Homo sapiens: one gene and its partners. The protein of the gene in region 2 purifies or fractionates together with the protein of the main gene of each other region. This does not show direct contact. Each region holds a gene or a part of one and is shown on either strand. Other genes may lie near its edges.

Region 1 (3,500 bases), on a different chromosome or scaffold from region 2:
AAAAATGTGAACTAATTTAAACTGAAATCATGAATATCGAAAGTTAATTAAGGGAGATAGCTGATGTAATGAAAATATCAGGAGCTGGTTTTTAAACTCAGGGCATTCACTAACCAGCTGTACTAAATAGGCAAGTTATTTTGAGCTATTCGAGTCTCAATTTCCTTATTTGTTTAACAGATAAATAATACACAATGAATATTGTCTTTATTTGTACATCGTACAATTTGTACAATAAACATAATAATGCATGTTTTATCTAATTGTTGAGGTTCTATCAAGTTGTTTACTAGATAATCATATACATGGAAGAGTTGTGAAAAACAAAAAACCCATGTATTAATATGAAATATTATTTTCACTGGATTGATTATATATGTGACTAAGTTACTAACTTGCAGTTTCTTTACTACTTATTGTGTAGTGGCATTGAAAGAGATACAAATGATGTTAGAATATAATCTCTACCCTCTCATGGTTATAATCATGTAGGGCATAAACACTATGAGTACAAATAGGAATTAAGTAGACTATCATAAGACCTATAAGAAGCTCACTAGGTAAGTTTTGAGGGCTAAGAGATAACTTCAACCTGGGACAATCAGAGGATCAGAAGGTTACACTTGAGGAAAGGCTTGAAAAATTTGTATAATTTCAGGGTGTCTAGATTGGTGAGGGTGAGGAGCAGGAGCAGTTCAGATGTAAGAGCAATGGAGTGAAAGACATAGCTGTGGAAAATTGGGGACTTTATTTAGAGAACAATCATTTACACTTAGCTAAAACATAGGACACCAGAAGGAGAGTTCCAGGAAGTTCCACAGGAGCCCTAACATGGAGGGCCTTGAAAGTCAGACTAAGCAATTTATAGATACTTAGTGTCATTGAAGGTTTTTGCAGCAGAGGAGTGATATGGGATGTGTATAGGGAATTTAAGCAACTTTTCTAGAGAACATATTCTTAGGTGTAATTAAAGTTGTGGAGATTTTAAAATTAATATTCCTAGGGACTCCAACTAGACTGCTTCATAGTTCTATTCTGCCAAAGTTCACCTCATGATTGCATATTTATTTACAGCTCTTCCTGAGACATTCCACATAGACCTTTTTGGGCATTTTCTTCATACAATTTTCTCTGCAATTGGTCTTTAGACTGCAAAATCTGAACCTCTTCAGTCAAGACCTGTTGGCTTCATTTTCCTGTTGATAGCTGTGGTCAAAGAGCTCAAAAGCCTGGTGTAAGACATACAAGAAAGACTGAAGGTAATGAGAATTAAATCATAGAGAATATTACATACGTAGTGCAGGCTTTGTTTCTAAATATTTGGAAACTTGCTAACATGAAAGTATAACTCTTTATGTTGTCTAATTTGAATTTTAAAACTTTACATAAAGACTAATATACAGTATAATATTCCATGAAGGAAAACCATGGAAGGTTTGTGTATGCTCCTGTTACTCCCAATGACTATGAGAATCACTGAAGGTAATAATGGTGAGTTACAAATACTCTAGGCTGAACAGTTTCAAAAGAAGCAATATCTTTAAAAACCACCTGACATTTATGCTGACAGAATTTGCCAAGGCAAACCTCCATTTGAATAAATTCCCTGAATAGTATGGGAGATGTTTTTGTTAGGATCTTTCAAAGCCATGTAACATAGTTAAACACCTGTCTGAGGTTATTGTTGAGATGTTATACTCAACTTATATAGCAAGAAACATGTTATTTATAATAATCTCTCTTTAGATGAAATAAACACTTCTTTGATTTAGGATAAAATCTGTGTTTCTGTTGTCATACAAAGAAAGCAACCGAATGTATAATAGAACTACTTCCTGTTCCTCCTTCTCTCCAACCCAAATCCCTCATTTAAGAGGTCCATATTGGGTTCTTTCTCTTCTTTTTCTGAAGAAAACTAGGAGACAGAGAGAAAATAAAATACACAGTCTTTTTTGCAGTGCATGCTTTCTGTCTTTAAAAATTATGAGTATATATACTTTATTGAAAATCAAAAAATGACCTCTACTGGGATAGCCCCTGGTCTGAAGAAAAAGTTGGCTGAAATATATTTATTAATAAAAGTTTTAACTTTTAAATAGGGCTTAAGAGCATGGCAAATTTCCCAATTGTTTTGTCATGAATTGTCAAGAAAATAAACTTGAAAGGACAGTTTCCCTCTCTTCCACTTGCCACCCTCATATCTTGCCACACACACACCGTGACAGCTTATGAGTGCCTTTGACTGAAAACAGGCCCAGCAATTTATCAGACCTCCGTTAAACAAGATACAATTGCCATGGGCATTTTCACTCAGCAATTAGTTGCACTCTCCAATTTCTATAGCTTCATTTAATTGTAAGCACAAAAGAGGAGACCAAAGCTGAAAATGCAACCCCTTTATCCTATGACCTCATTCTTTTTTCAGGCAGCGCACTTCCTTGAACAATCATTCACTTTAGTGACTACGCCCTTGAACAACAATTTATCAAAGCAGCACACCCCTCCCCACAGAACGGGAAACTTTTCTGATAGTGGAAGAGAAGAGTTATCCACAATCTTTGCAACCAAAGAAAAAGCACAAAAAAATCATATAAACAAAGGTAAGCCCCAGCTGAATAATTGTTGAGAACAGAGGTCATTCGTAAACACACATTTTCCCCCAGGCTGCTCTCTAGAGTTTCTTTGCAAGTTTCAAATTCAAAAGAATGGCAACCCTTATAACATATACACTAAAATAATCCTTCTCTCACAAAAGCATGTTTTACTTGATAAAATGCTGATGGTCACAACACAAAATACTCCTTTAAAATGAAATATAGATAGACACATGGGACACCTACAGACCAGGCTCTGTATGTCTGTCCTAAAAATGAACTCTCCCTGGACAGGTTAATGGTATTTATCCAGAAAATCACAGTGTTTGCTAAAAAATAGGCACTTAATAAACATGTATTCAGTGAATGACTGGTATTTAAAAATATTTTATTTTAATCCATTTTTTCTCTCTCACATTTTTTCTCTCTCATGTATACAGCTGCTCTGTATGCATGAAAAATACCTCGAACTTCATGAAAACCTTAATTAGTGGAAGGAAAGAATGTTAGCCCAATGAGTAATTCATATCAATGTTGCTCATTTAAGGCATTTCATTTTGAGTTAATGATGGTAGGTTAACAGCTAAGCTTTGTAAAAGATTGAACTAAGAATTTTTGTTTTACTTTAAGCTTCTAGAACTCTATTTATTTGCAAGACCACATTCAGTTCTAAAATGCATCTGAGACCTTGATTATATCTGTGTTTGACTATACGTGTTCATGCAGATAAACCCAGTAATTTTAATTCTACCATTAATTTAGAAAATTTCACCAGCAACTGGTTTCTACACTTAATTTTCTCTGAGAAACACTCTATCAATCAAACAAAATAATAACCAAAAAACATAAAATATATGTTTAATTAAAGAAACAAAGTAACATTATATATCTAGATAAATTTAAAAT
Region 2 (3,500 bases):
GCAGGCTGGGTAGTGCTGTGGTGGTCACCCCGCAACGGGAGTGGGCCCACAACAGAAGATTCTCACTGAGTTCACTGCACACTGTGCGGCCAACAGCATCCTCACCACCAGCAGCCCCTGCCTCGGGGTCAGGGGCAGCACTCCCATCTCAGTGACCCAGCACCCACACACCACACCAGATCTCACAGGGCAGGGAAAGTGCCCCCTTTCACTCGCCTGAAGGCAGCCGGCTGGAAAGATCTCACAGGCAGTATTAAGGACCGCTGCGGTGCTCCTCTCCAGGTGTAAAATCCGAAAGCCCTTCATCTTTCTTCATAGGTTTTATCTCCTAACACTCCTTACCACTCCTTTTCTCCGCTTCACAAAACCCTGTTCTGCGCCTACACTTGCTTTTTTTCTAACCGGGCCTACCCCTGCTTAGCTTCCAGGATCAGTGTCTACACTGAAAACATTCAGCACAAAACTTGATACATCAAAGGAGAATGAGACCTCATTTACCAGATGCCGCTGGGAAACAAGGCATTCTTTAGAGGCCATTCTGCCAGATAACAGTAAAACACAAAGGCACAAGTCTTATTTAACTATTACCTATAGAAGTCTCACTAAAATGTATTACATCTACTCCTACTTTTTTAAGCAAAATAAACCATAAACAATTTAACCTCATGACCTGCCTTTTGAGTGCCTTCCATACCAGGAGGTGACATTTAGGAGAATCCTGAGTAACACCTATTTCTTATTCTCAGCAGCTCTGTTTCTCTTCAGTTCTCCAGCTAGGATCTACCACTGTGCTTCTCAACTGGGCCCCACCCCTAGTGATTCTCCTTCACTGGGTCTCAAGCAGCAGCAGGTCTGTAAAGTCCCACAGGTGATTCTGAAGTGCTGCGGGGATGAGAACCCGGCTCTAGGGCTTCAGGAGGGATCTCTCAGTGGCATGGCACTGTGCTGAAGCTGCCATGGAAATGTCCAAACTGTCAAACTGAGATCATCGTGTCACATTCCAGCAACCCTCCAAGAATCGACCCTTGCTCTGCTGACGGAACCCCGAGTCCCGGGCGTGAGCTGTCATGCTCAGTGACACCTGCCCAGATACCTGCAGGTGTAATATCACCTCCCGAGGCTGTGCAGACCTCACAGGTTTCTCTCCAGGGCTCCTGGAGGATGAGGCAGGACATGTGATGACAGCCAATCAGGGCCCAACAACTGTCATGGGGAGAACCACCATGTGGGCTAATTTCAGGGTGTCCCTCTTTTCCCTGCAGACCTCCCTTCTAACCTTGCTGTCCCTCTGCAGACAAGGTGGGGCAGAGAGAGGATGGGGCAGGAGGTGTAGGACATCGGGCAGTCCTTGACACAGCCAGGGACATGCCTGGGAGCTCTGTGAGGTGGAGCAGGGGCCTGTCCCACACAGACAGCACAGGTCAGTGCAGCCTCCAGGAAGAACTGCTGGCACAGAGGCATCTCTAACTGCCCCTTTCCAAGGCCACCATCGGCAGGAGGACAAAGTACGGTGCAGAGCACAGCAAAGTGCTGTGCTCATCCACGTTCCCCAGTATCTCCCAATCAGCCTAAAGGAATGGGCCAATCCACGGCACAAATGAGGACTTCAATGACTCCATGTGTCTGGCTTCCTCGTGCTTGCCTGCTTGGCCACTCAATGAAGTGGCCTCGGGGCTGGAGAGCATATCACACACCTCTTTGGACATATCCAGCACTCCACAGACCACAGAGCACCTCACCATGCTCAGGGCAATCATGGGCGGTGCCGGAGCAGGCAGGGTGTCCATTTGGTGGAAGAAACATTGTGATGTAGATAAGCAAATGACAAGAGCACGAAGTAGAATCAGCATTCTGAGACCCAATTTGGCGCTCTTTATCCGTCCTCATCTGAATGCCTACGTTCAGTAAAGGAGAGCTAAGAAAGCCTCCAAGACAACCTGAAGACATACATTTAAATGACCCTCCTCCGCTGCATGGAGGGTGACCTTCAAACATGTGGCCACCACACGGGCATGCCAAGCAGTTGAGGCTGCACCTCTCATGATGACATGAGGCAAAGAGAATTCCCAACTGCGAGCCTGAGAGGCGCCCTGCTGCAAGGCATAAGGCCACTGTGCTGCTGGGAGGAGACCCTGCTCCTTGCTCCTAGGCACCACCCAGGCCTCAGCCACAAAGAGCAGCTTCCTTCCTCCAGAGGAGATGCTTGAAAAGACCCTCCAGCCCCTCCCACCCTACCTCCCCTCACACCTCTGTAACATGAAGGAACGGAGGCCATGACCTCCAAGGTCCCTGCTGGCATGAAAGTCCTTTGACTCTGTGACAGAAGTCATCTATGCATGTACCTAGGAACAGTGTTGCAGCTAGGTCTAAATTAGCCAAAATTCGTTCCACCATGAAGCATACGTACCATCTGGGTCTTTAAAGGTCAACGTGATGAACTTGCTAGCCACCATGAACATGAAAATCACCCAAAAGCATGCGGCCAGCAGAAGCCACTGGTGGTGCATGTTGTCACACCGCAGCCATTCACTGACTCTTCCTGGAAAACACAAGCGAGATGCCCCTGCTGCTTACAAATACATCAAGTCAACAAAGAGGAATGAAAACGACAGGTGATTTCAGTCAGTAAGTATCAGCACAAATATTTCCGTTTTTTTCCACTGCTACAATAGGTAGTTTGACTTGGCATTTAACATTTCATATTGAATTAATAATATAAATGATTGATTCAATAATAAAATCAAATTTAGAACACCCTAATGGAGAGACATGATAATGAGAGAAGACCACTTCCTTGTGTTCTCAGAACACAGAATAAGACTCCTTTGCACATTTGATCCCTGACTCCTGTTGGGCCCAGGCTAAGGTCCCAGTGAGCTCCCACGATGGTCTGGAAGCAGGTGGCAGGAAGAGGCCTGCCAAGGACTAGGCCTTAGCTGAGGGTCATTCATAGTGGGCAGAAGCCATGCTGGGGCAATTAGGAGCTGGCTGTGTTTAAAATTCTGACTGGCTGACAAGATGTAGCCACACCTAGAGAAGCTCTAAAAAAGCAAAGGAATGAACACTGACGCTTCTCGCCTCCGCCCACTTGCCAGCAGCGGCCTGGGTAGAACACTGAGGTGGGTGTTTTTCATGCTGTCACAGCCAGGGAGCAACACGGGGCATGTCGGTCCTCAGCCTGGCACAGAAGCCACACTCTCCTGCAGGAGGCACATAAAGAACTGGGAAGTCACTGTCAGTTCTTGGCAGGTGACACAAGAAAGTGTGTTTCATTTCACCTTTAACACAGTGCTTCTTCAAGCCAAAGCTCTCCACGTACAGACAAGACCCTGGGCTGAGCTGGCTTCCACCGACTGACTGAGGCCATCCATCACTTCTGCATGGCAGGGAGAAGTGGTCCCCTCAACACAGTGCTGATGGCAAATAATTTCAGAGAGAGCCTCCTAACCCTGGGTGGGTCAGAGCTCCATGAAGACCCAGGTGAATCACTCTCCTTGTCT
Region 3 (3,500 bases), on a different chromosome or scaffold from region 2:
TGACACCACAGTTGACAACATCATTCTACTCACAACTCACAGCTCTCTTTTACAGCCCGTGTTTGTCCTTGCAGTTTCCTTTGCTCCTCACCCTTTCATACAGACTGCCACTCACCCTTGAAGACTTGGCTCAAATGCTATCTCCTCTATGAAGTCCTCCCTGACCACCGCCCTCCAGTAAGACTCCATCTACTGCGCCCTCACAGTCTTGATGAATCTCCCTCAAAGAGCCAGGCACTTCACTCTATTCCTATGATTTGTTCCCCAGTCTAATTCTCACCATGATATAAGTTTATTATAGAGCCCAGAAGAGGACTTGGCCATGAGGTAAGAGCTCAGACAGCAGAAATAAGAGGGAAGACAAGAGAAGGAAAAAGCTGCGAGGGCTAGGCACCCACTTTACCTGCGTGACAGTAATGTTTTCCATCTGGAGAAAGTGTCCACCTGCAATCCCTTCTCCAAGTGCTTCAGCTTGCCCTCATCAGGAAGGATGAAGATGGCTGTGATATTTTTCTGGTAGGGTATTTCCAGGATGGTGCAAGAGAGCTTATCGTCATAGCCAACTTGGTATATGCCACTACGGAACATCATGGGCACCTTGACTGAACTGTTTTTCTCCAGAAAGAAATCTTCCTCTTTAGTTACATTTGGATCAAACTCATGTTTCCACCTGGCTTAGATTGAAGAAAGACAAACAGACATGTTATCCCAAGGGAAAAAAGGTGACTAAATCCAACTAACCAGTAGTCTCTCTCCACACAGATTCAGGGTGAAAGGGGATATTCCGGGATATCAGGGAAGTCCTTGCCCTCATGCCATGTCCTGGAGATTTCTGATGATATGGGCTCAGGTGCAATTATTAGTTCCCAAAGAAGCCAGGACTAGACTGCCAAATTAAGAGGGGAAAAGAAGACTACCATAAGCTCAGGTTCCCCTAAGCCTGAGAAAGCCCACTGATTATGTCCTAACAGAGGGGACTGCATTACAATTAATGAGGGCTAATTGAGTCTGATGTGAGTAGACTCTTCTTTAGCCATCAATCTGCCTGTGGATTTTGAGAACCCTCAATTTTTTATATTTAGTACCATGTTCCTGACACTCCAGCAGTGATTTTGTCTGGACTGATGGGTGTTGGCCTCTGATTCTCACCTATTTTGGCCAACCTGTTTGTGTACATGTGTTCTGTGTGGTGTTGGGGGATAAAGTTGAAATTGGAAACATTCTTCCATCTTTTTTTTCTGTCTCTCTCCATCAGATCTGGGAAATATATAAAGTCTGATAAGGAGAATTTATATAATACATACATAAGGAGACCCACCAAGTGATCACCATCACCATAATCAACACAATCACCATCTCAGGTGTCTGCTTAAAGTGCTGGAAAGCACACAGTGCTAGGGCCAGGAGAAATGTGTTCCAGTCCTGACTGTCAATGATGGGCTTTGTAACTTGGAGTAAGTCAGTTAATCTCACTCTGATTTTTTTTTCTCATCTAAGTGATGGGAACAAAATGTCATTCCAACCTCTATAACCAATGTTGTGTTAGGATAATCACCAATAATGAAAATGATAGACTTCATAAAGCTCATTTCACATACATTTTCACTTTAAATCTCAATAACTGTATGAGTTATGTATCATGGTAACCATTTTACAGATAGGAAAAGTGAGGTTTTGAGAGATAAATCACATATGAATTCAAGGTCACAGAGTAAACAAGTGGCCAACCCAGGTTTTTAACCCAAGTCTAGTGGTCATCCTATTCTTTCCACACCAACATGCCAAAAGCCTTACCTCGAAAGAAAATATAATTTGCAAGAAGCATCACAGTGCCGGGGTCTATATTCTCGATCAGGTTGTTAATTTTCCCATGGGTTTTTTGACTGATAAAGTCATTGATCTGCTTCTGAGCCATTTCCAAATTCTGAAAGTTGGTAAGGATGGTTTCGGCACTGTAAAAGTTCTTGGCATCTTCCAAAAACTTACGCTGTGGCTGCAGCCTCTGGTCAATGAACAGCGTGTTCCCAATGCTCAGTTTGAGGTCCTGGGTCTTCTGGGTCAGCTCGTGGATGATGTAATGGAAGCCCTCATGAAGATCTTTTTCTGGCATCTTTCTGAAGTTGAACCCCTGCTTGATCTCGTCCAGGGTGCTGTCCTGGGCACCCAGGCACAGCATGGAGAAAGCTGTAGAGATGCTCAAGGGGGATAGGAAGATGTTCCTGCCAGGGTTGTAAAAGGCCAGCTTCTTGAGCAGCTTAAAGCCTAAGTCCATGTTCTGCCTTGCAAGCTCCTTGGCTGCCATCCTTTGCTTCCATCCTTGGACCTCGCTCAAAGCTTTATAATTCCTTGGTGAGAAGCTCGGCTTTAGAAGACCTTTCACCGTGAGGAGAACAGCCAGAAAAATGGCCAGGCCTAGTGTGGGGTTCATTTTCCTTGAAGAATATCCTGTTGAGTAGTAGACCTGAGGTCAGCAGAAAAAAAGAACATGATAACCCCATTGCCTACATGTTACCCAGAGGAAGACCAGATGAAAGAAGAAATACAGTGACTATTATGTGTTGTACATAGCAGTTTATGAGTGCTTTGACCCCTTTATAGCATTTAAACTTTATAATCACCCTGGGGACTAGAAATGACTTCTACACTTTGTAAATAGGAGGACTGAATGTAGAAGACAACTCTTGTTTTTGTACCCTCTTTATGGAAACAGTGTCTCAATTCCTTTGAGGAACAGCTCTCCTTCCCTCCATTGGACCACAGTGAGGATACCCCGTAGTGTAGGCATATGGCCCAGACCTACCATCATAATACTTCATTCCTTTGCCACACTGGCTGGTTAAAGATGAGAGTGTGGACCAAAATCAGACCTCTCAGTGTCTTTCTAAGGGAATGCAAAACCCCCTAAGCTTTGGGGCAGCTAGCTTTGTGAAGTAGCCCTGGAGCTGAATGTGGCCATGGTTTCCACATGTAGAAGGAGAGGAGAGTGATAGAGGGAGGTGGAAAGACAGAAATGGACTGACACATCTGATGACATCTTTGGAGACCCTGGACTAACCTTTAACTCAGTTTGCTACCCACTTCCATGTTTCCAAGTTATGAAAGCCAATAAATTTCCCTTTTAGAGTTGGCTGGTTTGAGGTAAATTTTTCCCCTTCAGCCAAAAGAATTATGACTAATTTACAGAGATCAAGCTCTTTGTTTAAGCTCATATGTTCTCTAGGTGGTGGATACTCATTCCAGGAGGACTTAGATCTCCAGGAAACCTTCTTCCCTACACCCTTCCCAGGGAGGGAAGAGGATGGCACCATGGGAGAGGAACAGCCAGGTCTGCCTGGCTCTGGACTGCTGCTCCTTTCATCCACCTCTCAGCTTTGACATCTTCCAACGGCCACTGTGAGCTTCTGGGAGACAAGACTTTTAGCTACGTTTTCCCTTAATCTCCAGCCCTAATTCTGCAGAGAGATGCTAAAAGCATGTTGGCCTAAAAAGCTTATTGATTT
Region 4 (3,500 bases), on a different chromosome or scaffold from region 2:
GGCAGCTAGTATTGCTTCCTTGCATGGATACATAGGAGGGATACATTATAGATTAATAAATGATAGTGAGATAAACAAAATGATCTGTTGTGTATCTTTTACTTTACATTTGCTATTTACAGAGGAGTGTTGTATACATAGGTATTATTTTATGTCACACTGCTTCAGTGATAACTATATCCATGTGTTTGTATCCATGTTTTTATCCATTCAACTGTATTAAAAGGTGTTGGGACAGGAAAAAAAGTTGTATTACTAAGTACACACAAAGAGGTTCTTCAGGTAAACTTCAAAGTATTAGATAATACTTTAATAACATGGGCAAAGAGGATGCGGCAGAGTAAGAAGTGATGAAAATTATGCAGCTTCATGTTTAAAGTCTGGGCTATAAGAGTCCTGAGAGAAGGAAAGTATAGAAGAACCTTCTGAGTTGAAGGGCCAGGACTAGAGACATGAGCTCCTCCTTTATGGATATGACAGATTCTAAGCCAAGTAGTGCTTGCTAGCAAGACTGAGATGTAAAAATAAAAAAGTTTCAAAGCAAATATATTTCCCCAGCTCCTCCATACAAGCAGCTGTACTTCACTAAGCTACCAAGTTTAGCTGTAAGAAAGTAAGAAGTTTGCTAATGAAAAACAACTTTGTATTTTAATTTCCTCTTCAGGGACATTAGGGATCCTTTGTCTTTTTTCAGTGCTTTGAAATGTTCATGTAATGTCACAAGTCCTAAGACAATGGCTAGAGAAAATTAATATTTTATAAAATTCTATTAGTTTGAGGTTAAAAAGAAAAATCAACGGCAAATTTACCAACTTTTTCTTAAAAGCACAGTGAATCCAAAACAGATAAAAGACTACAAACCCTATAAAATGAATTTAGATTCATTTTCTACTGCAGAAACATTAAAAGTAATTTGGATGATTTCCTAAATCTTAAATGGTGCAAAAGGCGGTTTGCTTAATTATGATTGCTGGCGATGTGGATGAGTCCTCCTGTCTGCTATGAAAAATGTTCTTGCTCAGGGTCCCTTTTATGAAGATTCCTGGGAAAAATCATTTTCCAGTCCTAGTGTCAAGAACAGTTATACTATTGGTTAAAAATTCATTTACTTTTGGCATTGGCTATTAGAGAATTTCTGGCAGTGAGTTTAAACAGAATACTTGACTGCAAACAAGTTATAACAGTTACCCAACTGTGTCCTTCCTTTGCTGCTAAGTCAGGTTGCCTTTACTTTGAAAAAGGTAAAAAGGACAAAACATATCTACTTAGGCACGTGGAATCTTTTTGTTTAAAGTGTTTTTCTATTCGTTGCTACAGGTACAGAGTAAAAAAATAATAATCACAAAGGTTCTGAGAACTGGAAGGAGCTATGGTTCTCATCTCACTTCTAGAATTAACTATGAATCATGTCTTTTTCATCACCCATTCCTGGGGGCCCTCCATTCAGTGTTGCATGGTGAGAAGAATGCTGAAGAGCCAGGAGAGGAAGGCTCCTGTTTCAGCCCCACTACTAATTGGCATCTGGCTCTGTGACTTTCTTGCTTTGGGTCACAGTACCCTCAGCTTAAAATGAGGATGCTGGTCTGGACAATCTCTAAGGTTCTTCTAGAATGGACCTTGTCTTCATTATAGAATGATAGTTTAGGAACAGTGGGAACACATTTCCACTCCAGCCTCTGATTGAGGCCAGAAGTGAATACTCTACTCCACTATGGTCCCTGTGCCCAAAGCTCCAGCCCTCTAAGGATCTTGTTGCATAGCTATCAGCATTCTCCATGAACTCCTTTGTGACCAGCTCCTGAGCACAAGATTCTTTAACATTTCCTGTCCATAAGTGACCATCACACCCTGCAGGCAGCCAGGCTTTAGGCAGTGGAGAGACGCGGGGTTCCAGGAACCCTGCTTAAGCACGGCATGCTCAGGAGAGACTTTCTTACCAAACAGCTCAATGTAGACCTCTTGAAGCGTGTGCACACTGCAGAACTGGTTCAGTTCGTGGTGGATCTTGTTGAAGATGAGGGCCTTGTCATAGTCAGCAGTATAGTTCTTCACTATATCATACACTGAGAGGGAAGGAGAGGGCTTGGCATAAGAAAAGGCAAGACTCAAAATGCCCTCAGACACGGCAGCTCTCCTTTTCCAAGGTGCTACAACAGACACGGGAGTGGCATGCTGGGGAAAGTGAGCTGGTGGTGGGAATAAACTGTTAAGACGTACCTGCGTTCGGGACCAGGAAGTTCACCACTTCAATTCTGTCAAAGTAGATCATCACACCACCACTATTGGAGGGAGAATGGACAAGAAGTCACTGGGAAGCCTTAGAATATGGTGCAGTCCCCCAGGGTGATGGCGTAAGATGTGGGGCTTGGCAGAAAAGGAGTAGAAGAGTTCACGGGAAGTTGGAAGGCAGCTTGGATCTCCAAGTGGGAGGTTCTGCAGGGCTCATGGCAACAACATACTCTCCTGAGAAATCACACTGCCTAGGAACATCTCTACAAAGACATGAATGAGACTTTTGGGGACCAGTACGAAAGAGTAACTCATATCTTTGGAATCAGCAATGCCTTTTGATTAATCAGTTGCACGGAAAAGACTAAGGAGGGTCAAGGTGAAGTTTTCAGAACTTAGAAGGTTACTGTGGAATGTTATGATCAATGTTTCTTAAACTGTCTTCACTATTACTTTGGTGTCACACTCCCTTTGCCCTCAAATATTTATTATAAAAAGATTTCAAACATAGAGAAGCCGAAAGAGTAGTATAACTAACATCCATATCCAGATACCTGAATTCAACACTGATAACATTTTACCTTATTTATTGACCTTTTTTTTTTCTGAACATTTCAAAGTAAGCTGCAGTTAGGATACTTTACTCCTTTACTTTGGTGAGCACTGTCTTAAGAATAATCATTCTCCTACACACTCATGGTATCATTCCCAAGCCTAAGAAAATTAGCAATAATTCTGTAATATCACCTAATACCCAGTCCTTATTCAGATTTCCCCAACAGTTTGTGTTATGGACTGACCTGTGTATGCCTCGCCCCCAGATTCATATGTTGAAGCCCTAACCCCCAATGTGACTGTATTTGGAGATTAGACCTTTAAGAAGGTAATTAAGGTTAAACAGGTCATAAGGGTGGGCTGTAATCCAAAAGGTCTGGTATCCACCAAAGACCTTTTTCTCTCTTCTTGCACATACAGAGGAAAGGCCTTGTGAGGATGTGACAAAAAGGTGGTCACCTGCAAGCCAGAAAGAGAGGTCTCACCAAAACTACCCCTGCTGTTACCCGGATCTTGGACTTTGGGCCTTCAGAATGGTGAGAAAATATCTATTATTTTAGTCCCTTGGTGTGTAGTCCTCTGTCATGGCAGCCTGAGTGGACTCATATAGTTTCTGTCGTATCTGTTATAGCTGTTAATTTTGAACCAGGTTCTAATCAATGCTCACCCTTGCTTCTGTTTATGTTTCTTGTAAGTCTCTGTCCAATCCAGCATCC

The links. The genes of interacting proteins can lie anywhere in the genome.
Region 1: the proteins of CHST10 (region 2) and POF1B purify together in Homo sapiens (affinity purification with mass spectrometry; one large-scale study listed by BioGRID and IntAct). This does not show direct contact.
Region 3: the proteins of CHST10 (region 2) and SERPINA12 purify together in Homo sapiens (affinity purification with mass spectrometry; one large-scale study listed by BioGRID and IntAct). This does not show direct contact.
Region 4: the proteins of CHST10 (region 2) and ERLIN2 purify together in Homo sapiens (affinity purification with mass spectrometry; one large-scale study listed by BioGRID and IntAct). This does not show direct contact.

The regions. Positions count from the first base shown.
Region 1 is NC_000023.11:85,373,166-85,376,665, forward strand, and holds part of POF1B (protein POF1B), read right to left. Parts: intron 1-3,500. UniProt on the Homo sapiens protein: Plays a key role in the organization of epithelial monolayers by regulating the actin cytoskeleton. May be involved in ovary development.
Region 2 is NC_000002.12:100,404,169-100,407,668, forward strand, and holds part of CHST10 (carbohydrate sulfotransferase 10), read right to left. Parts: exon of another isoform or gene 3,279-3,500; intron 2,540-3,278; 5' UTR 2,508-2,539; coding exon 2,408-2,507; intron 1-2,407. UniProt on the Homo sapiens protein: Catalyzes the transfer of sulfate from 3'-phosphoadenylyl sulfate (PAPS) to position 3 of terminal glucuronic acid of both protein- and lipid-linked oligosaccharides.
Region 3 is NC_000014.9:94,495,970-94,499,469, forward strand, and holds part of SERPINA12 (serpin A12 precursor), read right to left. Parts: intron 2,462-3,500; 5' UTR 2,429-2,461; coding exon 1,795-2,428; intron 675-1,794; coding exon 404-674; intron 1-403. UniProt on the Homo sapiens protein: Adipokine that modulates insulin action by specifically inhibiting its target protease KLK7 in white adipose tissues.
Region 4 is NC_000008.11:37,743,134-37,746,633, reverse strand, and holds part of ERLIN2 (erlin-2), read right to left. Parts: intron 2,280-3,500; coding exon 2,218-2,279; intron 2,064-2,217; coding exon 1,938-2,063; intron 1,066-1,937; coding exon of another isoform or gene 1,031-1,065; exon of another isoform or gene 84-1,030; intron 81-83; exon of another isoform or gene 1-80. UniProt on the Homo sapiens protein: Component of the ERLIN1/ERLIN2 complex which mediates the endoplasmic reticulum-associated degradation (ERAD) of inositol 1,4,5-trisphosphate receptors (IP3Rs) such as ITPR1.